Regions from separate parts of the Homo sapiens genome. Here regions 1, 2, 3, 5 and 6 are each reported to be linked to region 4. The links are microRNA targets in miRTarBase. Many come from high-throughput screens and were not tested one by one. Region 4 holds a microRNA gene; each other region holds the end of a gene's coding sequence.

The links. The annotated mature microRNA hsa-miR-502-5p reads AUCCUUGCUAUCUGGGUGCUA and lies in region 4 at 1,608-1,628, shown strand. An mRNA with a match to its seed (bases 2 to 7 or 8) in the 3' UTR can be bound and repressed. Matches are read on the target gene's strand: a 7mer-m8 pairs with bases 2 to 8, a 7mer-A1 pairs with bases 2 to 7 and ends in A, and an 8mer does both.
Region 1: miRTarBase lists BHLHA15 as a target of hsa-miR-502-5p. Seed matches in the 3' UTR shown: 7mer-m8 at 3,048-3,054.
Region 2: the mRNA of TRAF2 is a reported target of hsa-miR-502-5p. Seed matches in the 3' UTR shown: 8mer at 712-719.
Region 3: the mRNA of RNF122 is a reported target of hsa-miR-502-5p. Seed matches in the 3' UTR shown: 7mer-A1 at 2,926-2,932.
Region 5: the mRNA of DIAPH1 is a reported target of hsa-miR-502-5p. Seed matches in the 3' UTR shown: 7mer-A1 at 2,717-2,723.
Region 6: miRTarBase lists ETV3 as a target of hsa-miR-502-5p. Seed matches in the 3' UTR shown: 7mer-A1 at 1,166-1,172.

Annotation. Positions count from the first base shown.
Region 1 is chr7:98,212,242-98,216,343 of GRCh38, reverse strand. It overlaps BHLHA15 (basic helix-loop-helix family member a15), which reads right to left. Exons shown (of 2, transcript NM_177455.4): 2 at 887-4,088. The coding sequence starts at 4,034. The coding sequence ends at 3,465. It overlaps TECPR1 (tectonin beta-propeller repeat containing 1), which reads left to right. Exons shown (of 26, transcript NM_015395.3): 26 at 1-1,720. Among named protein-coding and RNA genes, the nearest start is that of BHLHA15, 2.9 kb to the right of the region's middle.
Region 2 is chr9:136,925,642-136,929,728 of GRCh38, forward strand. It overlaps TRAF2 (TNF receptor associated factor 2), which reads left to right. Exons shown (of 11, transcript NM_021138.4): 11 at 42-966. The coding sequence ends at 260. Among named protein-coding and RNA genes, the nearest start is that of FBXW5, 17 kb to the right of the region's middle.
Region 3 is chr8:33,545,359-33,549,358 of GRCh38, forward strand. It overlaps RNF122 (ring finger protein 122), which reads right to left. Exons shown (of 6, transcript NM_024787.3): 6 at 2,396-3,509. The coding sequence ends at 3,395. Among named protein-coding and RNA genes, the nearest start is that of RNF122, 20 kb to the right of the region's middle. RefSeq lists a silencer at 483-552.
Region 4 is chrX:50,013,006-50,017,108 of GRCh38, forward strand. It overlaps MIR502 (microRNA 502), which reads left to right and starts at 1,593; the gene lies at 1,593-1,678. The region is part of intron 3 of CLCN5 (chloride voltage-gated channel 5); the gene reads left to right. MIR660 (microRNA 660) reads left to right here and starts at 236; the gene lies at 236-332.
Region 5 is chr5:141,513,272-141,517,374 of GRCh38, forward strand. It overlaps DIAPH1 (diaphanous related formin 1), which reads right to left. Exons shown (of 28, transcript NM_005219.5): 28 at 1,750-3,737. The coding sequence ends at 3,580. It overlaps LOC124901091 (a long non-coding RNA gene), which reads left to right and starts at 3,737. Exons shown (of 2, transcript XR_007058971.1): 1 at 3,737-4,103. RefSeq lists enhancers at 263-888, 434-553, 889-1,514, 1,294-1,543, 1,515-2,140 and 2 more.
Region 6 is chr1:157,121,624-157,125,726 of GRCh38, reverse strand. ETV3 (ETS variant transcription factor 3) reads left to right here. Exons shown (of 5, transcript NM_001145312.3): 5 at 1-4,103. The coding sequence ends at 886. Among named protein-coding and RNA genes, the nearest start is that of ETV3, 15 kb to the left of the region's middle.

The DNA of each region.
Region 1 (4,102 bases), not on the chromosome of region 4:
TGTTGTAGGAGGGTGCAGACTGCGGGCTTCTGTGGGGAGCAGTACTACTGTGTCTGTCGGCAGTGGCCATGGGACCCTCAGCCCGTCCTGTACATGGAGCAGGGTGCACAGTCACCCTCCATCCTGTGGCGAGAGGCTGGCCCGGCCCGGCCAGGCGAGGCAGAAGGTGTCGGCCAAGTGGCCCCGACCCCATCCCGCAGTCTCTCAGCTGCTTTTTATTACCTCTGTGCCCCATTTGGGAGTTTGCTTCCTCCACCTGGACACTTTGCCCGGGAGGTCATCAGAGCCCAACCCCAGGCTCTGCTCGGTTGGAGAGGGGATGACTTCACCACCACCTGACCTTCCTAGGGTCCTGGTCTCACTGTCAGCTGGGGGTCCGTTGTGTGTATTTGTACAGTTTTGCTGTATGGGGTTTGTCACCCAAAAGCTGATGCTGAGAAAGGCCTCCCTGGGGCCCCTCCCGCGGGCATCTGAGAGACCTGGTGTTCCAGTGTTTCTGGAAATGGGTCCCAGTGCCGCCGGCTGTGAAGCTCTCAGATCAATCACGGGAAGGGCCTGGCGGTGGTGGCCACCTGGAACCACCCTGTCCTGTCTGTTTACATTTCACTATCAGGTTTTCTCTGGGCATTACGATTTGTTCCCCTACAACAGTGACCTGTGCATTCTGCTGTGGCCTGCTGTGTCTGCAGGTGGCTCTCAGCGAGGTACGGGGAGGGCGTCACCCTGCAGAACGGCAGAGTGACGCGTCCTCTCGCTGCTGAGCACCAGCTGTTTACCTGCCCTGCATCACTTCCTCGGATACTTTACTCAATAAGCATTTCCCCTGGAGTGTCCGTGCCCTGGTGTTTTTTATCGATACGTTGATTAAAACGCGTGGTTCCCCGTGTGCCTGAAGCAGACATTGCTGTGAAATCTTTTATTTTTGTTTTATGACACAGCATCAATTTCATGAATACTTTGAAAGGGCCATTAGAAAAAATAAGAGCCAATTTGGGTCATTTGAGAAACATTTTCAGCACAATTACAGTGGGGGCACGGGCCGTTCGGCTCCAGCTGGGTTTTCCCAGATGCAACAATCGCGGTTCTGGCTTCTCCACTGGTGGGGATGGGGATCGCGCCTTCGGAGCTCTCAGGGCGCCTGTCTGTCGGGGGCTGGGTGCGTCCACAGCCCCGGGGGATGGCGCGTGGCGTAGCCCAGGAACGGCATGTGGGTGGGTCTCTGACCTGCTTGTGCAGGGACTTGAGGGACCTCATCCCGATGGCCGAGGCAGGGGCTCCCCACGGGATAAAAGGATCCGGCCTGGCCTTGGGGTCCAAGAGGAGGGCCAAGGGAGTGGACCTGGCCCCTGTCCCCTCTCCTCCTCGAAACACTGGACACCCTGAAGCGAGACTATGGCTGCTGAGGATCCTGTGTGATGTGGCCGCGGGGCGTCCCCTCTGGCCTCAGGGGAAGAAGGACTGGGCGGCTCGGCCCAGGTCACCCTCTAGGAAGCAGAGGAGGTGCAGGTGCCAGTTCAGGGCAGAAAGAAAGAGCCACTGAGGCCATTGTCCTGAAGGCGGTGACCCCCAGGCACTCCTGCTGCCCCCCAGGAAGCCCTGGGCTGCGCTGGACACCGGGCCGAGTCTCCGTCTTCTGGACCGAGGCTCTTCTGGGCTTTCAGGCTCAGCTCGTCGGTCCATTCAGCAAGTTCAGGGGCAGACTGAGCCCTGCTCTGGCCATGGCTCAGCCGGAAACAAGAGCTGCCATGTTCGTAGCACCTGAGTACCCCCGCCGGGGAGGTCTCTGTCATCTCATGTCCCCGCTGGGCAGGTGCCCCACAGCAGGGGAGCCCTGGGCTCTCTCTGTCCCAAGCTCCCAGCTGCATCCAACCTCAGCTCACAGTTGTGGATCACCCTGACCTTCCAGAGTGCCCCTCCCAAGGGGCAGACCCAGCATCCTGGAGTCCCCACCCCGAGCTGTGCTGAAGGACAGCTGGGGCGGTAGGGCCAGGACCAGACCAGGCCTCTGACAAAGTCTCATCGAAATGAAACCAATGTGCCCGGGCCACCTTAAGGGGCCCTGACCAGGAAAGTTAGGCCTGAAGCTGCCAATGCCAGATCCTCAGGGTGTTACCTGTGTCCTTACGTGGCTAGGCCTGACCCCAAGTGCCACAACCCCCAACTTGGGGAGGGCAGGGCCACCTGGTGGGGACGGGCCAGCCAGAGCCCTTGGTCTCAGCTGTGGCAGCCACATCCCTGGCCCGGCTTGGCCCTGAGGGCCTTTGGGACATCTCTGGGCAGAGGCATGAGGGAGGGGAGAGTCCAGTAGCCAAGTCCGGCAGAGCCAGTGGGGCAGGAACGCCCAGCAGAAGGAAGCTGGGCTTGGGGCAGCAGAGACGTGCCAAGCCACCAGGCCTGGCCATGAGGATGAAGCACCTGGGCGGGGGAAGGGACGTACCTGCCACCCCAAGGCTCCACCAGGCAGAGAGACCCAACGGGCTGCCAACTCAAACCAGAACCCAAGCACGTCATAATGTCCTACAGACAGCATGGTGCCAATTATATGATAACCCCACATCAGTGAGAATAAGTAACGGCGGTGGCAGGGGCTGGGTGGGGGGCACACTCGCTCCCCACACAGGCCAGGGCTGAGCAGGAGGCCTCAGAGCTGCTCTTGGGGAGCAACCCAGGGCCTTGGGGCTTCTCTCCCATGCCCAGAAGGGCTGCACCAGGAACACCCAGCCCTGTCTCCTGCTCCAGTTCCACAGCACCCCTCACACCCTGCCCCAGACCCTCCACAACCAGGCACAGCCTGGAGTCAACACATCCAGGAGCCCCAACTTGGGAGGAGGGAGGAAGAGACTCCAGCCCCTCCCCACCATTCAACTTTTAAGGATGAATTGGAGGTCATCTGATTAGAGTTTCTGGCAGCTCCAATCATCTCTGATTGGCCCCACTCCCCGAGCAGCCTTAGGCTCTGCCGGGCTTGTCCCGGGCCTCAGTTTACCCCAAATGAGGATGCTGAGCCCAGGCCCCATGTAGCCCTATAACAAAGGTTGGAGAGGGGGTCCTTGCTGGGGCTTTGGCCTTGGAAAACCTGCAGGTAAACCTTTTCCTGGGATCTCCCCTTGCCCAGAAGTCAGGGTGAAGAGACGTTAGTTCCAAGGCTAAGGAGGCCTTTCAACTCGGGCTGAGACTGCCTGGCTCAATGAAAAATCAGGATCCAACTGGGCCCTACCTAGAGGTTTGGGCCTCACGCCGCTGTCCAGGGCCACAGCCGCAACTAGGCCACTCGCTGGTCCCCAGCGGGGCAGGAAAAATTGCTCCAGGGAAGTGGCTGAATGTTCGGGGGAAAATGGAACCGCTGAGGCCGTGTCCTTGTGGGGTGTCACCGCCCATCTGGGGCTCGTGGCTTGGAGGGACTGGGGCTGGGAGGAGCAGGCCAGGCAGCTGCGGCCACCGCCACCCCCACCCAGGACTGGGCGCTAGGTGCCCTCTCGGAAGCTGTGGATCTGCGTGGAGTACCTCTGCAGGTGGCCCTGGGGCTGGGCCTCCGTGGCCCCCAACGCACCCCCAGCCACCTGCTGCTGCTGCTGGTAGTGCTGGTAGAGCTTGGGGCCCGGCCCCTCCAGGCCTGGGAGGCGGCTGCTGGACATGGTCAGGATGGTGGCCGTCAGCGATTTGATGTAGTTCTTGGCCAGCGTGAGCGTCTCGATCTTGGAGAGCTTCTTGTCCGCGCGCACGTGGGGGATGACTTCACGCAGGGCCTGGAAGGCGTTATTTAGCTTGTGCATCCGCTGCCGCTCCCTCTCGTTGCTCTCCAGCCGCCGCTGGATGCTGCTGTCACGACGGCCACCGGGCCCGGAGGGTCCTGGCCGCCTGCGCCTGCCCTCGCCCGGAGCCCTTGCTGCGGCCCGGGCCGGCCGGCTCCGCAGACCCTTGGCCGGCTCTGGCCCCGGGTTCGGCAGGGACCCGTCGGGCGTCCCCTCCCCGGGGGTGGCCTCTGTGTCCTGCACCGGGGCCCGGCGCCGTGGGGGCCGGTTCTTGGTCTTCATGGCCCTGGACTGGCTGTCCTAGGAGGTGGCGGCAGGAAGGTGAGGCCCTTGGAGCTGAAATCCAGAAC
Region 2 (4,087 bases), not on the chromosome of region 4:
CCCACAGACCTGTGTCCCCTCCCTGGGGCTCTCTCCTCCAGGTGACCTTAATGCTGCTCGACCAGAATAACCGGGAGCACGTGATTGACGCCTTCAGGCCCGACGTGACTTCATCCTCTTTTCAGAGGCCAGTCAACGACATGAACATCGCAAGCGGCTGCCCCCTCTTCTGCCCCGTCTCCAAGATGGAGGCAAAGAATTCCTACGTGCGGGACGATGCCATCTTCATCAAGGCCATTGTGGACCTGACAGGGCTCTAACTGCCCCCTACTGGTGTCTGGGGGTTGGGGGCAGCCAGGCACAGCCGGCTCACGGAGGGGCCACCACGCTGGGCCAGGGTCTCACTGTACAAGTGGGCAGGGGCCGCGCTTGGGCGCTTGGGAGGGTGTCGGCCTGCAGCCAAGTTCACTGTCACGGGGGAAGGAGCCACCAGCCAGTCCTCAGATTTCAGAGACTGCGGAGGGGCTTGGCAGACGGTCTTAGCCAAGGGCTGTGGTGGCATTGGCCGAGGGTCTTCGGGTGCTTCCCAGCACAAGCTGCCCTTGCTGTCCTGTGCAGTGAAGGGAGAGGCCCTGGGTGGGGGACACTCAGAGTGGGAGCACATCCCAGCAGTGCCCATGTAGCAGGAGCACAGTGGATGGCCTTGTGTCCCTCGGGCATGACAGGCAGAAACGAGGGCTGCTCCAGGAGAAGGGCCTCCTGCTGGCCAGAGCAAGGAAGGCTGAGCAGCTTGGTTCTCCCCTCTGGCCCCTGGAGAGAAGGGAGCATTCCTAGACCCCTGGGTGCTTGTCTGCACAGAGCTCTGGTCTGTGCCACCTTGGCCAGGCTGGCTGTGGGAGAGGGTCTGGTCCCACGCCGCCTCTGCTCAGACCACTGTGTGGGAGGTGCACAGCACAGCCTGCGGGTAAAGTGTGAGAGCTTGCCATCCAGCTCACGAAGACAGAGTTATTAAACCATTCAAATCTCTGTGGTCAGTGGCATCCATTTGATTCCAGGTTGCCTGCGGCTTCCAGCCTTGGCAGTGGTGACCCTCTGCGGGTCCTCCTGGCCTCTCCTCTCACAGACCCCTCCCCACGGGGTGCCTAGCCCCTGCCTGCTTCTCTAGCTAGCCAGGCTGTGTTCTCTGTTCCTCACCTGATGTAAGCTCCCTCTTCTCGAGCCTTGTTCCCTCTTCTGGAATGTTCTTCCCTGTCCATCTCCTCTCCTGGGCCTCCCCAGGGACTCCTGTGAGAGCAGAATGAGGATGAGCCAGCCCTGGTCCTGCCTTTCTGTGCACAGGCTCCACCGAGCATCCTGGCTGCACCCGGGGGGTCCTGGCCACACCGAGGGTCCTGGCTGCACCGCCCCTGTGGTGTGTTTTTGGGACAGTGCAGGCAGGCGTAGGCACGGCTTCACACTCGGTGTCAGGGCAGCCGTGCTGGGACCTACTGGGCATCTGTATCGGGGTCCAGGATAAAGTGCTGTCCCCTCTCGACGTCTTCACGCACTGCTGTAGTTTGAGAAGTTGACCACAGAAAAGTACAGAAAATAACTCAGGCACGGAGCTGACCGACGGGCATTGTCTGTGTTCCGTGAGTGTGTACTGGGCCTAAAGAGCAAGCATTGCAGAGCCCTGCTGTTCCCTTTCCCGGCCTCACCTCAGCTCCCCAGGCCACGTGGCGGGAATTGAGGCGTTCCGGTTCTCTTTGGGCTTTAGAATTTTGCATCTGTACGTTTCTGTATTCACAAATAAGAATATTGCATTAAAAATGCAGAAACCATCCACTGGGTCAGCTGCAGGTAGCTGGGCTTTTGACTCAGCCTGGCTACTTTTAATGCATCTTGTGCTGGGCACTCTACATGGTGGATTCTGACTGCCGTGTGTGAGTTCCCTAGAGAGCACCTTCCAGTCTCTTCCCGTGTCTTCAGGGTTTGGTGACTGGAGATAGCCAGACCTGCTCTCGTGGGTCTCCTGTCAACCTGGAAGGAGGGTTGGTGGTTTCTAGGCCTCCCCTTTTTAGCAGTTGCCAGCTTGCTTTGCAGAGGGGCTGCATCCGGTCCTTCCACCAGCACCAGGGGGAGGGTTCCCATCACTCCCATCCCTCCCATCCCTGCCCGTGCTTCGTGTTGTTGGAATTGAGATGCTGCAGCGTGCTGTGTGTGAAGTGAAGTGGCATCGCTGTCACGTGCGTTTCTCTGATGACTCGGCGGAGTCAGGCGTCTTTACCACGCTTACCTCTCCCTTGGATTCTCTCCCGTGCGAATTGCCTGTTGATGTCTTTTTCTCATTTTTCTTCTGGTTGTTGGTCTGGGTCTTATTCTGCTGGTTGGTAGGAGTTCCTGATATTCCTGATTACGGATTCTCGGTTGTGTCTTTGAACTGCGTTTCTGTTGCTCCTGATGTGCAGAAGCTTAAGCCTTACACATGATCAGCTGATCTTATCCTTTATGAATGGTGCTATTTCCGACCGACTCAGAACATCCTGACCTTCCCTGAGGCTGGAAACCACTGTCATGTTTTCGTCTAATGATTGTGAAGTTTTGTCTTTAACATACTGGGCTTCTATATTTGGGGATTTGTTTGTATGTGACAGGTTTTGCTGGGTCACTGCAGTTTGTTAAAACAGATTGATTGAGGTCATCTCTTCTCACTTAAAACGAAATGGAACTGTGAAATGAGAGGAATGGACCAAAAAAAAATCCTCCCCCAGGGACAAAGATGGGGAAGAAGCCAACATCCCACAAAGGATTTGAACCCATTTTGGAAGGTGGGAAGTGGGTTGGTGGGTGGCTGCTGAGCAGAAGAGGGCTGAGGGGGAAGCTGGCCACACCGGGAGGCCCTGGCATGGAGCAGAGTCTAAAAGTGGATCAACTGAAAGACGGGGCAGAGCAGCTACCTTGGAGGTCCTTTGCCAGAGCAGCCGGATGGTCCTCCTGGCCCTCACCTCCCTGCAGTGGAGATGGAGGTCTGGAGAACCTGGGGAAGAGCTGAGGACCGCACCCCCCACGCAGTGAGAGCAGCATCGGGCTCCAGGCTGCAGAAGGGGCAGAGGTCTGCACTCGGAACAATTCCCTAGGCACTGGCTGCCACACCAAGAGGCTCCCACGAAGCAGACCAAGGCCCTTGAGGGACAAAATGCTCTGGAGCAGCCCCGTGGGCAGGCCTGGCCCAGCCGCCTCATGGCCTTCTGGGGAAGTGACAGGCTCTGTGCAAACCCACAGAGGTACCATCGTCACTACCTAATTTTGGGACATTTCATCACCCTGCAGAGAAACCTTCCCTTAGCAGTCACTGTTCCCTCCCGCTCAGCCCCTGACAGCCAGCCATAAACCTACCTTCTGTCTCTATAGATTTGCCTACTCAGGACATTCATGTGAATGTGGCCTTTGCTTTTACTCAGCAAGATATTTTCATGGTTCCTGTGTGTTGCAGCATGCATTGGAGTTTCATTCCTTCTAATGGCTGAATAATCTCTTGTATGGATGCACCACACCTTATTTATCCATTCATCCGTTGCTGGACATTTGGGTGGTTTCTACTTTTTGGCTACTCTGAAAATGCTGCTGTGAACATTTGTGAACAAGTTTTTATGGGGACGTGTATTTGTTTTCATTTCTCTTGAATATTTATACCGAGGAGTAGAGCTGCTGGGCCGCTTGTTCAGCTCTTGGAGGAATTGCCGAACTTTTGTGTCACCTTACATCTCCCTCAGGAAGTGTTTTTTTTTTTTTTTTTTTTTTTTGAGACGGAATCTCGTTCTGTCTTCCTGGCTGGAATACAATGGCACAATCTCGGCTCACTGCAGCCTCCGCCTCCCAGGTTCAAGCAATTCTCCTGCCTCAGCTTCCTGAGTAGCTGGGATTACAGCTGTGAGCCACCACGCCTGGCTAATTTTTGTATTTTTAGTAGAGACAGGGCTTTACCATGTTGGCCAGGCTGGTCTCGAACTGCTGACCTCAGGTGATCTGCCCACCTCAGCCTCCCAAAGTGCTGGGATTGCAGGTGTTGCACCTGGCCCCTAATAACATTTTTAAATTTCACGTAGTAAAATTGATTTGTTCTTTTGTTTTGTTCATGGAACATTCAATTCCATGGATGTTCACACCT
Region 3 (4,000 bases), not on the chromosome of region 4:
AGCCAACCTACTGATCATACTTTCCCCATCTGATCCCAGCAATGCATCTACCATGAGGCTGCAGCAGGAGCTGGAGGGAAGGCTCTGTGTTTTGCTTAGGAAACACATTTTATTTCCCACATTAAAGCAAGCTGAGGGTTGCTGGGAGATGATGCGGTACCCCCAACAAAGAAAGGATCAGGCTCCATAGGGTTGGCAGCAGCAAGCTGGAGCTGGTGGCTTCAAGGAAGAGCAGGGGTTACCTCTCAGTGAGGGAAAAATAGGTGGTAAGAACAGGTGTACCCTTGGGCAAAGAACTCCATCAAGACAGGTATCAACAACTGCACCAGGACTGCCAGGTGCCCCAGCTGCACCTCGGGACTGCCCAGCATGAGCACACACTGTGCTGACAGCCTCCATGGTGCAACAACAGGGGTGAGAAGGCATCGCACCTACCTGTGGGGCCTGGAACCTCTGGGTGTATGGGCATCTCCTGCTTACCTATGACACCAGAACAGTATACTTATTCAGCAAACGCTCTTGTTCAACACATAGGGGCAGTATAGGCCCAGCTGCTCCATGCTTATTATGGTCACGAAAATCATTCCCAACATTTTTACTTTTTTTTTGAGAGAGAGTCTCACTGTGGCTGAGGCTGGAGTGCAGTGGTGCAATCTTGGCTCAGTGCAACCTCCGCCTCTCAGGTTCAAGTGATTCTTGTGCCTCAGCCTCCAAAGTAGCTGGGGTTACAGGGGTGCGCCACCATGCCCAGCTAATTTTCCTATTTTTAGTAGAGACATGGTTTTGCCATGTTGGCTAGGCTGGTCTCAAACTCCTGATCTCAAGTGATCTGCCTGCCTCGGCCTCCCCAAGTGCTGGTATTACAGGCCATTCCCAACACTCTTAATGCACTTTGCATGCCCCCTGCTGACTCAGTGCTTCCTTGGGACATGGACAGAACAAAGCTGGAGGGCATGGATGCAAGGTCTGAGTGCACATAGGACCATAAAGCATCACCATGCAACATTGCTAGAGGTGGCAGCAATTGTCAGCAATTGCAGCTACTAGCTAAGAAAAAATAAGAGGCCTGGGCTCAGTGGCTCACCCCTGTAATCCTAACACTTTGGGAGGCTGAGGTGGGCAGATCACTTGAGCCCAGGCATTTGAGGCCAGCCTGGGCAACATAGTGAGACCCCATCTTTACAAAAAATACAAAACCCAGCTGGGCATGGTGGTGTGTGCCTGTGGTCCTAGCTGCTTGGAGGTTGAGGTGGGAGGATTGCTTGAGCCCAGGAGTTTGAGGCCACAGTGAACCATGATTGTGCCACTGCACTCCAGTGACACTGGGTGACAGAGTGAAATCTTGCCTCAAAAATTAAAAAAAAAAAAAAAAAAAAAAGGGGGTGGGCACGGTGGCTCACGCCTGTAATCCCAGCACTTTGGGAGGCCAAGGCAGATGGATCACTTGATGCCAGAAGTTCAAGACCAGCCTGGCCAACATGGTAAAACCCTGTCTCTACTATACACAAATAATTAGCTGGGTGTGGTATCACATGCCTGTAGTCCCAGCTATTCATGAGGCTAAGGCAGGAGAATCACTTGAAGCCAGGAGGTGGAGGTTGCAGTGAGCCAGAATTGCACCACTGCTCTCCAGAGACTCTGTCACCACAAAACAAACAAAAAAAGAGAGATCAGAGCCTCTATGGTAGCAACCTCTATGGTATAACTAAAAGGTAGACCTTTTTAGTTGTGACTAGTTGTGTTAAGGGCACTGACAATTGCTTAAATTACAAGTAGAATTCTTAGTTTCAAGTCTTAGTCGACGGAATGCTGTGATTGAAAATACCAACTTCCTTTAAAAATATGCTAGAAATCAGACGGAGCCTGGTTTAGCAAGGTCTTAATGTACCTTGTGTTAATCCTAACATATATTGTTCAGGTAATAACCTAAGATCGATTTTTGTTCCTAAGGATTAGGAACTTTTAGGCTGAGCGCAGTGGCTCACATCTGTAATCCTAGCACTCTGGTGGCTGAGGTGGGAGGATTGCTTGAGCCAAGGAGTTAAAGACCAGCCTGGGCAACATAGGGAGATCTAGTCTCTACAAAAAATTTTAGAAAATTAGCCAGGCACACGCCTGTGGTCCCAGCTATTCGGGAGGTTAGGTGGGAGAATCACTTGAGCCGGGGAGGTTGCAGTGATCTGTGATCATGCCACTATGCTCCAGCCTTGATGACAGAGTGAGACCCTGCCTCAGAAAGATAAAAGTAAAGACATTTAAAAAGGATCAGGAACGTGTGTGTGTGTGTATGCGTGTGTGTTTGATTTGGGTATGGAAAAGTGAGAAGAGGCAGTTTGAGAACTTTTTTCCCTCTACTGGCAGAAAAGGGCCAGGCAGCCACAACCACAAGCAAAAGTAGGTTAGAGAAACTTGTTATTAAATTTATTTTTCTTTAAATATGTAACTTTCTCCCACCCTCACCCACTCCAGGGAGGAACAGAAAATCCCCACCCCCTTCCATTCTGGAGATTTCGTATCTAAAGCCTGAGAGGCGAGGATGAAGTATAAAAATACTATTTACAAAGGGAAGGAGGTATCTGTTGCTTAACCGTAGACACCCCCATCCCCACACCCCTTTTGATCAAAAAAAAAAAAAAAAAAAAAAAAAAGGCCCCTGGGAATCAATTTAAGTATAGAACTAGCCCTCCTCTAGAGGGGCCCACAAACCTCAACATGGAATAGGAAGCTCCGAGATTAACTGAGGAAGAGACTGAATGGATAGCACCGTGGGTCCTGGCAGGGGAAGGGCCCTCTCTTACTCTGGAGTCAGCTGGCGCCCGCCAGCCTTTGTTTCCATAGGTCCCATGTAAACACTGACATTTTCCTTTATGTCCCTGCTCTTCTGTTTCATACAGAGCCTCCCTCGCCTCCCGTGGAGGCGCTTGGTTCCTTGATCTTTCCTTCCTTCCCTTCTAACCTTACTCCGGAAGGAGTGGGAAGGGGAGGGAAGGTTGTAGAGAGGTAAGAGCCCGTCTCATCCCTTCTGGGTCAAGGCAGCTCATCCTCCTAATGGGAGCCTTGAAAGAGGACTTTCTCCATGTTCTTGATCGGGGTGGACACCTTCCCCCAGAACAGGGACAAGGCAGGTAGATAGTCCAGTACCAGGAGACAGTGGTCTTGATGGGTGAGGCCACCAGCATGGAGTAGCAGGGAAGAAGGCTTCAGGAGGCAGGAAGTGGGGGCACATCTGGCACTGGTCTTGCACTGAGGGTAGAAGCCCAGTCCTAGACCACCCTTCTCATCACTGGGAAAGTGATCGTCATCACCCTACAGTCCTGTTGGTTGGAGCTGTGCAGAGGGACCAGACATCCATGAGGCAAGAGGTCTTCTCCAGGTCTCGGTGTAGCGGCAGCACTCACACCAGCTCATCCAATAGAATCCCAATGTTCTGCGTGGCCTCTGAGGGACTAGCAATGGGCTTGTTACACATGGGGCAGACACAGCGAACTTCCAGCCATTTCACCAGACACCTGAGAACAAATGAGGAATGGTAATCTCTAACCAGACAGACCACGCTGCTCCAGTTGTCTCTCAAAACAAGAATATCCCGTGGTGGCTCACAACTGTAATCCCAGCACTTTGGGAGGCTGAGGCAGGTGGATCACCTGAGGTCAGGAGTTCGAGACCAGCCTGGCCAACATGGTGAAACCCCATCTATACTAAAAATACAAAAATTAGCCAGGCATGGCGGTGGACACCTGTAATCCCAGCTACTTGGGAGGCTGAGGCAGGAGAATCGCTTGAACCTGGGAGGCAGAGGTTGCAGTGAGCTGAGATCGCACCATTGCACTCCAGCCTAGGCAACAAAAGCAAAACTCCAACTCAAAAAAAAAAGAAGAATATCCCTACCCCTGTCCCAACCTAATCCCTCTGGGCTTTGCTCGGTGTTCACGTAGGACCTGGGGCATCACGGATAAGGGGCAAATAGAAAGTGGCAGAGACTGGAAGTTTCCAGAAGATG
Region 4 (4,103 bases):
CACCTCCTCCATAACCACACATTCAGTGAGCACATGAGGCTAAGTGAACACACAACAAGTACTTTATTAGGGAATAGACTTGGCACTGCTTCTCCAGGCGTGCACCTGACACTTTAATCTCAATCTGTCTCTCTCTCAATCAATCAATCAATCTCTCTCCTCTCTCTCTCTTTCTCTCTTTCTGTCTTTCTTTCTCTCTCCTCCCCCACCCCCCTCCCATGTGCAGAAGAATGAACTGCTCCTTCTCCCATACCCATTGCATATCGGAGTTGTGAATTCTCAAAACACCTCCTGTGTGCATGGATTACAGGAGGGTGAGCCTTGTCATCGTGAATCTTCTGCTGAACAATCCAAGTAGCCCGTGTTTATTGCGCACTTTTGATGTGCCATGAGCTGTGCTGGGAGTACCCTGCTAAATAATGGACAGTGTCTCTCTCCGGGACTTCCTATCTAGTGGAGGTATTAGGTGCCTAGACTTCCCCAGGCCTAGGCAACAGACACAGGTGTGTCAGGAATTGAGCCTTCTCATTCTCTTATGAATACACATGCTCACATTGTGCATGCATGTGCACACACACATGTGTAAGTGTAGAAACATTTCTGTACAAAGCTGAAAGGAAGGAGCCTTATTATCTAAACTTGCCTGCAAGTTTCCTTGCCACACACACTCAGATGCATGCCTGGTGTGCAGGTGCCTGGACTTTGATTTTTGCTTGCCCTCTCCTAGCCTTGCAGCCTAGGCACAAGTGCTGTCTTAGCAGTGCAATGGGCTTGTGCAAGGATACCAGCTTGTGAGCCTTGCCTATGTGTAGGACAGAGCCTGTCCATCCCTTCTCTTTCCTTTGTTCATTCTTTCAGTCAGTCATTTGTGTGTGCATGTTTTTGGTCCATTCATTTATTCATCCCTTTAACAAATTTACTGAATTCCTGCTGTTTGGGAATGCCACAGTAAACTAACCTGTCAGAGATGCCGACCTTACTGTCTAGCAGGCTCATGGAGAATAAGCATCCTCATGTCATCCAACTTCCTGTGAATACATGGGCTCAGGGTGCCAGAAATCAGGCTTTTCTTTATTCCCTCCCACAGACATGGGTACCTGTGCAAATATATGTGGTGTGCACATCCTGAGCCTGCTGCTCTGCTTCCCCTTGTATCCTTGCCACCTAAATGTGCATGCTGTCTCAGTGCAGCACCTATTCCAGGACTCTCAGAGGGGCCTTTTTCTGCCCATAGACAGACAAAGTGCCTGTGAGTCACACTTCCTCCTCCCTCTCCTTCCCCTCTACCTCCCTTTCACAAGTATTGAGCACTTAGTACATGCTAACGCTGTGCTGCCAGGGCAGTGGGCATATGGTATCACACAAGATGGACTTGGTTCTTGCCTCAAAGAATATGTGTAGGAGACTTGACTTTTTGTCACCTAATATTCCTGCACGTGCTGAGTTAGTGTGGGCCACAACATGGGACTTCTTATTGACACCCTCTCCCAACATATACACAATGCAAGACTCTCATTCCTGTTCTCACACAGAGCTGTGTAACAGAGAACCTTCTCTGCTTCGAGCACGGCAGGTGCCCAAGCCTTCTGCCCTGCTCCCCCTCTCTAATCCTTGCTATCTGGGTGCTAGTGCTGGCTCAATGCAATGCACCTGGGCAAGGATTCAGAGAGGGGGAGCTCAACTGTACCAAGAAGGACAGAGAGCCTAGACATCACCCCTCCCACCCTCCCCTGTCATAGTTTTTGAGTGATGGGTGTGTGTTGGGGAAGCACAGAACAGAATAGTTAGGGACTTCAGGTGCTCTGGTGGGCTTGTCTGTGTATTAGAATAAATGTCCTTATTAAATAATGTCCATGTATGCAGGTATCCAGAGTGAGACAGTGAGCTTTCTCTGTGTTCCCCACCTGCTGTCCACACACAGGGTGGTGGGCGGGAACCAGAGCCTTCTGATTTGCTCCCTCACTTCCTTCCAACCTAGATGTGAGTGCTGTCTCAAGTATTAAGCCAAGGATTCAATGAGATGGAGCCTTGCCTACCTATATGTATATATATGGACTGAGTGCATATATGTCTCTTTTCTTGCCTTCCTATATCTTGAGTTTCTAGAGTGTGACAGATACTCTTTTTAGTGTTAAGGATGCAGTGACAAACGAGAGTCAAAATCACTGGATGTGCTCTCTGATGGGCAGCTTTAGAAGAAAAATTCAGACGGGCACAAATGATGGGGGCCAAAGAGAGAGTCTTCCTATTCCCCCCACTCTGTCCCCTCTGAGGACAGGGAGATGCACACATTCATGAAGATTTACACTTACAGAATGTATAGGAGTTTGAGCTTATAAGCTGCCCTTTATCTTCCAGGACATCCTGAGTAGAACTGTGAGCTGCCTTTAGATGTCTATTACAGACTCTTCTTGAATTAGAGGGGGTGAAGAGCAAGGGACCCTTCTTATTGCTGATCTTGTATGCACCCCACACAATATGGAAATGAGAACAGCCTATATCTTTATATTACCTTACTTTAGTCAAATAGAGATGGACTATACATGTCTCTGTTTCAGTCTATCGCTCTCTCTGTCCGTCTCTCCATCTCTCTCTCTCTCTCACCTAGGGAGTACAGGTGCCCATGATCTGATTCACTCCCCTCCTCCCATCCTTAGCGCCTGAGCCTGAGTGCTTTCTACTGTGACCTCAGCAGTATTCTTCAGTTGTTACTCTCTTCTTAGCTAAGCTGATCTATTCATTCCTCCCCATCTTATCATTTTTGCTCATTGCCCATTGCAAATTTATAGTGTTCAGGTCAGCGTAGCAATACAGTATTATAAATAGTGGTGACAGAGACAGAAAGAGACACACACTCCATTTCAGTCCTCAAGTTCTTAAACATTTGGGACTTATAGATTCTGATCCTTGGTCCTTCTTCTCTCCCAGATTCTCCCAATCTAACCTGCAGTAAAGATTCAGGTTATTTAATATGTGCTCCTTATCTTTTGTATACTCTAAAATCTCATTTTGGTTACTGCTCAGCCTTAGTCTTATTTTATCAGACTTTATACCTCTCTTGATGCCCAAGACTAGCAGCATCAGCATCCTCCAGGAACTTGTTAGAAATAAACTCTCAGGCCTCACCTCAGACCTAGGTAATCAGAAAGTCAGGGGTGGGGCCCAGCAATCTGTGTTTTAACAGCCCTCCAGGTGATTCTGATGCACACTGAAGTTTGAGAACCATTGGTTTAAATGACTTAAAATTTCTATTCTGTCATTACTAGGGGGATTTCTGTGTTACACAGGATGATTTTTAGCATCAAAATTTCCTTATGTGTAAATGGCTCTTTTAGTTTCTTTTCATATTTTAAAAATTCATAGACTTTTTTGAGCAGTTTTAGGTTTACAAAAAGATTGAATGGAAAGTATAGAGTTGTTATATATTCTCGAGACACCCCAGTTTCCGCTATTAACATCTTGCATGAGTGTTGTACACTTGTTAAAATTGATGGGCTAATGTTGAGACATTATTATTAAATAATAGTATAATTATAATGTATTATAACTATTATTAAATAATAGTTTAAATATAATTATTAATGTAAACCATAGTTTACATTAGAGTTCCCTCTTTGTGTTATATACTCTATGGGTTTTGACAAGTGTATAATGACATGCATGACCATTATAGTATCATACAGAATAGTTTCACTGCCCTAAAATTCCTCTGAGTTCTGCCTATTTATCCCCCCTCCCCCACCCTAAACCCCTGGCAACCGCTGATCATTTTTCTGTCTCCATAGTTTAGCCTTTTCCAGAATGTCATATAGTTAGAATCATACATTATGCAGCCTTTTCAGAATGGCTTATTTTACTTAGCACTATGCATTTAAGGCTCCTCATATCTTTTCATGACTTGATAGCTCATTTCTTTTCTTTCATTTTTTTCCCCATTTATCCCATATAGTAACCAGCTTATTTCTTTTTATCACTGCATAGTATTCCATTGTCTGGAGGCACAAAGTTTATTTATCCTCACCCACTGAAGGGCAGCTTGGTTCCTTCTACATTTTGGCAATTATGAATAAAGCTGCTATAAACGTTTGTGTGCAGGATCTTGT
Region 5 (4,103 bases), not on the chromosome of region 4:
GTGGAGTGTGCAGTCTAAGCTTGCGGCTGTCTCCAGGCAGAAGAGGAGACCCCGGCGCGGGCGGGGGCGGGTTGGCGCCGGGCAAACGCCTTGGGTAGAGGGGAGAGGACGTTTCGTTAGTTCCCGCCCCTTCCTGACTAAAATTGCCTACCCGAAGCGCCCCGGAGGGCTTCACGGGAGGAGGGTAGACTCTCCTTTGCCCCCGCACCCCCACCCCCGCTGCCTAGGGGTTTTGGGAAAGCCGCGGGAGTGGGAGGGAATGCGGGAGGTGATTCTTCCAAAGCCAAGTCTGCAGCTCGAGCCTCAGTTTCCCCATCTGGAATTCGCCTTCCCGCTGACATCTCCGTAGCGAAGCCTAAGAAATTGGAGGGCTCATCCTCTTCTTGCGGGGGTCAAGGGGACTGAAAGGACGTGCAGGAAATGAGATCCATCGCAGACTCAGCTCCCCTCCCTCCTTCCTGTCGGTGCTTTTCCACTCACTCGCCTGCTCTCCCATCTCCCCGCCCCCTCCGCCTGCCTCCTCGAAGCACTGTGGGATTCCGAGGTTGCTGCAGCCAGAGAAGCTGCAGAAAAACACGGAGCTGGGGGTGAAGGGGGACTTAAAAGGGGAACTACCCGGAAGGACCCAAGAACACAAAGACAGAGCCACTGCGGTTATCTGGCTGGTCAGCAAGGGTATGCGGCTTCCTCCGCGCTGCGGAGGCTCCCAGAGCCAGGTCACCCATTCTGCCAGCTCAAGTCTGTTGTCATGGGAACCAAACCTTCCAACTTAAGAATCTGGGGGCGACTTTCTAGCGTGGGAGGAAGGGTGGTGTGCACGGTTGCTGAGATGGAAGCAGGGTTTTGTTACTCAGAGCCAGGCTGCGGAGGGGCGGGGTGCCGGGCGCCTGGGTTCTATTCCAGGCACAGCAGCAGACTGGCAGAGCGCGTGAGCAGCTGTGGTTTGTCCCCTAATTGGTATGTGTGCCTATAAAGCTCTGAACCAGAAAGGCGTGGCCTCCGGGGGGACGGGAGGGAGGCGGCAGGCAACCCATCCCCACACCTCAGGCCATACTGAGGAGGCAGCTGCCCAGGCTCCAGGGCTATTTAAAAGGCTTTTATTTCCAGTTCCAGAGCCCGCCCGAATGGGTTTGTGGTCCTCTCCAGGCCTCTCCCTGTCTATCCTGGGCCTGCTCATTGCTGGTCTGGCTTTTTTGTGCAGGTCATAACGTGCTCAGACAAGTATGGCTCCAAGTGGCAAGTCATCTGGAGCATGACCTCAGGCTCCCAACCTCTGCTGGGCAGGCTCAGGTTTCCACCCCAGGGTAAACCCCTCTACTCTGGAATGTGGTCTGTGGCCACCAACAGAGCAGAGGGGATGAGAAAATGGGAGCCAGATGCTTCCCTCAGCAAGAGACACAGGTACTGCCAGGAAACCTTGCGTGACATCTGGGAACATGAAAGGTTCCAAGTGAGTTCCAAAAAAGGGCTCCAAACCAAGTAGCAGCAATGTGGAAGAGTCAGGGAGCTGAACCAGGCGCCCACTCCTTTACTGTGGCCAAACGGCCCTGAGGTGAGCTCTGGTGGGGCAGCAGCCACCATGTATTAATCATCTCTAGCCCTGTGCCCAAGTAAAGTGTCTGGCACCTTTAGCTTTTTCACAGTGATTTGTCAGGTCAACCAGGGATTTGAGGCAGGAAAGACTAGAGGAGCCTGGACTAGAGTGAAAAGAAAACAGCTCAGAAATTCACACAGGAAGCTGTAAGGCAGTACTGTTTCAATGCTTTATTAACAGTTGGAAACAAAACCAACAAACTGGAGGTGATGACATCCCAGAAGCCTATGAGGCAAGGGAAATAGGTTTGCATTTTGTCCCTCACACCTCTCTCTCTCTCTCTTTTTTTTTATTAAATGCATCTTAGCAAAAGTAGATTAAAAAAGAAAGGGTCAAAGCCCCAGATGTCAGCGAGCAGGGAGGAGGTGACCCAGGGGAGCAACAGACGCCCTGCATCAGAGTCCTCCCAGGAATAGTCCAAAGGAGCTGCTCTTGCCCCTTTATACACAAGCGCCAGCAACCAAAACCCTCCCTCCTGGCAATAAGGCCTCACTATAGTTGCCCTCATGCTTCCTAAGCTCTCTCTTGCTCTAATAACTCTAATTCTGGGCCAAGCCCAAGAGTGCCATTCTTTCTTCCTAGCTGGGGATGGAAAGCTGAGAGGGGCACAAGGAGGGCAAAAGTATCACCCTAAGCCAGAGAATTGCAGCTTCCTGTGGTTGGGGCCACCAAACAGTTCAGTGTGCCCACCCACTTCTCTTTTAGAAGAGAGCTGGGGTACAGTGTATGAAGGCACTCCTGGTGCCCAGTTCCCCAGAATGTCCAGTTAGCATCTGCACATTTGGCTTGATACATTTATACATTTATAAAAAACTCTGTGGTCTTAGAGTTCCTGCTACTCTTAGGCCTGGCCCAGCTCAACCAGAGAAGGGGTTCCTCCTGTGTCGGATTCCCTGGGAGAGAGGATCTGCCTTGGACTCAAGGGTCCAGAAGGTCCAGGGGCACATTCAGGATTGGGCCTGTGAGAAGAAATCCCAGAACTCTGTAACCTGCCACCAAAGCTTCTTACATTATGGAGGGGAAAGGGGGAAGGAACAGTTTTCTTTAAAAAAATTTTTTTTTTCATACAAAAATAGATCCATTTGCAAAACAATTTCTCAGCCAGGAGGCTCCACCTCCCATTTCCTTGTAGACAGAGGGTGAGGTGTTGGGATGGTCACAGTACAACCCATAGTCCAGATGAGATGCACCAAAGCTCAGGGAAGGCATGAGGAGGGAAGGTGGCTCAGTAGCCTGGGGTTGGTGCAGAGCGTCCAGAGAGGCAAGGGCATAAAGCGTGGCAGAAGCTGGGGGCAGGTCCCACACTGTCGCTATGCCCTGCCTGCCTGCCCACAGGCTCTGGCCTGGGCCACAGCACAGCAGGGAAACTGGTCCAGATCCTTTGCTTTGGAGGCCTTTCCCAGGAAGGTGGGGTAAAGGTGGGATTTGCTCCCTGCTTCCTTAGGAGCAGCTCCCAGTGCCACACCACTAATAATAAATAACCACAGCCAGGAGAGGGAAGAGCAGAGACAACAGCAATGAAAGGAGGGATCTAGCCCAAAGGTTTACAAGCCCCATGCTATTCTCAGGGCCAGAGAAACCACAAAAGAAAAGCACAAATCCAGCAAGACTGACCTAGGGGGGAAAGCCCATTAGAAAGTCAGGGCTGAGAAAAAGCAGGCTGGGCCTTGTCTGAGATGAGGCCCTCTGAGTAACAGAGAGGAGACAGGGTTAAGGCAGCAAACATGGACCCTGCTTTGGTAATACAACAGCCAGGGCTGGCTAAGTCGGGCTCAGGCCTCCCCTGCACTGCCCTTTCCTTCTGGCCTCCAGGCAGCTGAAGCTGTATGTGATGTTGAGAGAGCAGCAGGCCAGAGAGAAAGACAGGGTCAGGGTGGTGGGAGTGGCCACCCCAGAGGAATATCCCCTTGAGCCTTTAGGCACATGCTGCAGGGCAGGACAGTCTGCGGCTCCGCTGAGGAGCTGCCGCGGTCACAGGACCCACATTAGCTTGCACGGCCAACCAACTCCTTGGCTTCCTCAAGGATTGTGGGGAATGTCTCACTGTTCTTGGACACCTTGGCAGGAACAGCAGCCATGGCATCATCCTTGGTCAGCTCCGAAGCTAGCAGAGATGTGACTGCACACCCGGCCTTCCTGTTGGCTGCAAGAGAAGACGAGAGATTCTGTCTATGGAAGGCCTCATTTCTAATTTCTTTCAAACTCTACAGCAGATAATCAGCGTAAGCCATGCAGACATGACTACCTTGGCCACTTCACAGAGGCCCTTACTTTGAAGAAAGGGGCAGAGATCCAGCATGTGGAATATATTGTTGGGTGGCAAAGAATGTAAGAGAGTGTGGTGCAACAGGAAAGCAAGCCTTGCCCCCTTGCTTCCCTGTGTGAAAACAGCACAAAAGTTTGAACACAGACAGACAGAACTGGGCTGAAGTGTTAGCTATGTGACTTAAGGAGAGATGAAGTATTCAAAGTCTATTTTCTCGTAATAGGGATGTTGGAATTAAATAGA
Region 6 (4,103 bases), not on the chromosome of region 4:
AGGGATTGGCCATCAGAAACGCAAGCCTGACATAATGCTTCCTCTGTTTGCTAGGCCAGGGATGTACCCTGACCCCCACAGTCCCTTCGCTGTCTCTCCAATCCCTGGCCGCGGAGGTGTCCTTAATGTCCCCATTTCACCAGCCCTCTCCCTGACTCCCACCATCTTCTCCTATAGCCCATCACCAGGCCTGAGCCCTTTCACCAGCAGCAGCTGCTTCTCCTTCAACCCTGAGGAAATGAAACACTACCTTCATTCTCAAGCTTGTTCTGTGTTCAACTACCATCTGAGTCCTCGGACTTTTCCCCGTTACCCAGGGCTCATGGTTCCACCACTGCAGTGCCAAATGCATCCTGAGGAGTCAACTCAGTTCTCCATCAAGCTGCAGCCCCCACCAGTTGGGCGGAAGAACCGGGAGAGGGTTGAGAGCAGCGAGGAGTCAGCACCAGTCACCACGCCCACCATGGCTTCTATTCCCCCAAGAATCAAGGTGGAACCTGCCTCTGAAAAGGATCCTGAGAGCCTCAGGCAGTCGGCACGAGAGAAGGAGGAGCACACTCAAGAAGAGGGCACTGTGCCAAGCAGGACCATTGAAGAGGAAAAAGGCACCATCTTTGCCCGTCCTGCTGCACCACCCATCTGGCCCTCTGTGCCCATTAGCACCCCAAGTGGAGAACCTCTGGAGGTGACTGAAGACAGTGAGGATAGGCCTGGCAAAGAGCCCAGTGCACCTGAGAAGAAAGAAGATGCACTGATGCCCCCCAAGCTTCGGTTGAAGCGGCGCTGGAATGATGACCCTGAAGCCCGAGAGCTGAGCAAGAGTGGCAAGTTTCTCTGGAATGGGTCAGGACCCCAGGGCTTGGCAACAGCAGCTGCTGATGCTTAGAACTGGAAGTGGATTAGGAGCTGTTTATACTATAATCAAATACATACATGTATTTATGTAGCAAGATTTCAGGGTGGGGGGGAGGGAGTTAAACTGGTTTGATCATTCTAGGGGCATAGACTTGTATTTTTATGTTTTGGGGATGGGATGGGGTTATCTTCTGTTGTAAATTAGGTGGGATATGAACACACTTATTTTCCTGGTGAGTAGGACACAGGGAGGGTATTGAACTCAAAGGAGAAGGAGCCTCTATTTCCTGTTGAGGCTTATACTTTCTGACAAGGAAACTCCCAAAGGGCCAAGATACTTTTTGGTCCCATGATAGTCAGGTTCCAGACTTCTTTCTTTTCTATTGTATTTGTATGTGGAAAGCCATTAATGAATTTATTTTACTCCAAGAGATACACATAAAAGGGAAAAGGGCATGGTTGGGAGGTTGAGCAGTAAGAGACCATTAATACTAAGTATTTTGCCTGAAATGCTTCTTTATAATTATTTCAGGGAAGGAATAAGATAATCTCAGACTTACTGGGGTGGGGCTTGGGGAATGTTTGGATGTTGCTCTTTTTCTTCTTCCTTCTTTTTTTTTTTTTTTTTTTTTTGGTTGGTGTTGTTTGGCATTTTTTTCTTTTCCTTTTTAAAGAAAATGTTTTCAGGAAACATGAACAAACATACTGCCAATTATAGTGGGGCTGGGAAGGCACAGGAGCTGGCGACCTCTCAGCTGCATAGTTGGGACGGCAAACCCTGCTGTGAGCTTCTCAGACTTTTCACCTACTTCACCTATTAAGAAGCCATGAGGAGTTGTAAACTCTTGTTCAGGGAAGAAAAGAGGGCAGGAGGAAGTAACCCAATGCCTTTAAATACAAAACAGATGAAAAACAAAATACTCATTTTTCCTTTTCTATTGTGGGTTTGGGGAGCCAAACCAAGTGTGACTGTGAGCACGTTCACTGAGAGGCATGACAACATTATTGAAGAGGTCTTTCCATTATGTCTGGTTCTCTTATTTTCTTAAGTCAAGCCTTAACTATGAACATACTTTAAGATGATACGGGTCTGTCACCATAAACCTGTAAAAGGGCATCGACAGCTTTTCAGATAATCCAGGAATGTTGAGACATGGCTAAGTTTCTAGCTGATACTTAGTCATTCCCTCTTGATATTGTTGGGATGGGTAGCCAAAAGGCAGGCTTGTGGGAGTTAAGAGCCAATGATACCTGGAAACATGGGAGGTAGCTGGGGGTACAAGTGGATGTTGAGACTGAAGGAAGAGGTGGAAAGAAGACACAGAAGGCACCCAGATGCCAAAAGGCCTGGCATGAATGAGAGTTGGCATCTGTCCTGTTGTGGTGTTCCCATTCTTGCCATACCCATTTGCCCAGATTGTTCTGATTCTCATGTTCAATTGACTATCCCACATGAGACTACAGTTTATAGGCAGTGAGGAATTGTTTCTTCCTGGGAAATGTCCTTCCAGCAACTTCAGAGGAATGGGAAAGTGTTAATCTTACGTGAAGCAAAGGAGCCTGGACTAGGGGCAGAGAGAAAGAAGCAGCAGCCCACCTTCTTTGTGTTTGCACATGTGCCTATGTCGTGTACATTGGTACCTGACTGTGGCTCAGATCTGCGTCGCAGCAGCGAGAGAAGAAATCACTCCATATCCGATGAGAGGAAGGGTGGCACAGAGATGGTGTCTACAATTAGAGACATTTCTGACTCCACCTTAGCCTAAGCAAACTTTATATACTGAGTAACATTTGAAGGTTGTCTTTTAATGGTGGGGGGTGTTTTTTCCTTTTTAAACTACAGTGCTTGCACAAGAGAGGGAGGGACTCAGAAAAGGTTAGGGCAGGTGAGGGAGACAGTAGATGGCCTGGGATGACTTGAGTCCATCATACTATTGCTTGGCAGGTGTCCTCCCCCATGTTTGATTCAAATTCCATGAGTGACCTACCTTTCCCCAGGAATGGGACTGAGAGGGTAGTCTCCAGCAACTCAGTCTGCACAGGGCTCCCCGTTCAGGCTGCCTTTGGTGGTTGTGCTTTTGTAAGTTTCTTTCTCTGCACTTCGACTTACCTCTGAATCAGAAAGCAAGCCCAGCAGGTGAATGAGGGATGTCTGCTTGGCATTGCCCAATCTAACCAGGGAGGCTGGCTGGCCACCCACTGTCCGCTAGAGGGGAGAGCTAGCAGGTGTTGGTATGAACTCAGGAATAGAAACACGAGGCCTTTTTAAATACGAGGGAGAAGAATCCATGATGCATACCTGTAACCCCCTAGAACCCAAGTGCCAGAATTCCTAGATGCTGCTTCTGTTTGAACAAAATGTCACTGCTTTTACACTTGAAAAAAACACACTCGAAAAATGTTCAACTCCATGAAAAATATTTTTTGGCTTTAAGAAATTGTTTGGTGTTTAACTGTTTCCTTTGATTGCCATTCCACCAGTAAATTGTTGGTTGATTTGCACTGCACTCTGGGGTTGGGGTTGGGAGGGGAGGGTCCTTATACAGAGCCGAACCTGGGGTTGCTCAGGAAGTGGGCCAGGGAATGTGGAAGTCGTTGACATTGCCTGGGCCAAAAGAGTGGGAGATAGTTTTTCTCCCCTCAGCCCACTCCTGGTAGCACCTGTCGCCAGCCTGGTACAAAGCCAGGCCTTTTTCTTCTGTGAGCATCTCATCACTGTCCAGCAGCAGGTGGAAAAAGGGGGACAACAACCAGACCTATTTTTTCTCCCCCATTTTTTCCAAATTTTGCTGTGCCAAATGTTTAAAATTTTATAAATATGAATCTATTGAAATTTCCTTAATCAAGAGCTTCTTCGTGTAAAGTTTGCTTTTTTAGCTATAGAAAAAGAAAACAGTAAATATCTCTTAATGGCATCCAGCCTTGCTGAGCTCACCTTTTTTCCTGAAGAATGGGTAGGAGTGAAATATTTAATGTAAACATTTCACCAAGTCCCTTTACCCTAATTTTGAAGCTGCATTAAACCCAACTCACTAACACAGGGAATGATTGCACCCTAGTCCTCTGTGGGCCAAGAAACTTTCAGAAGCATTAAAAAAATAGTTGAAGTATATCACTTCTCACCAAGTGGGTAGAGTCAGTTGGCTGTTTGTCCCTTGTTTTTTATTTATTCCATAATTATGTTTGTGCTTTTTGTTTTGTAAACAGTAATGGAACGTACATTTTTATTTTGTTTAGAAGACAACTTT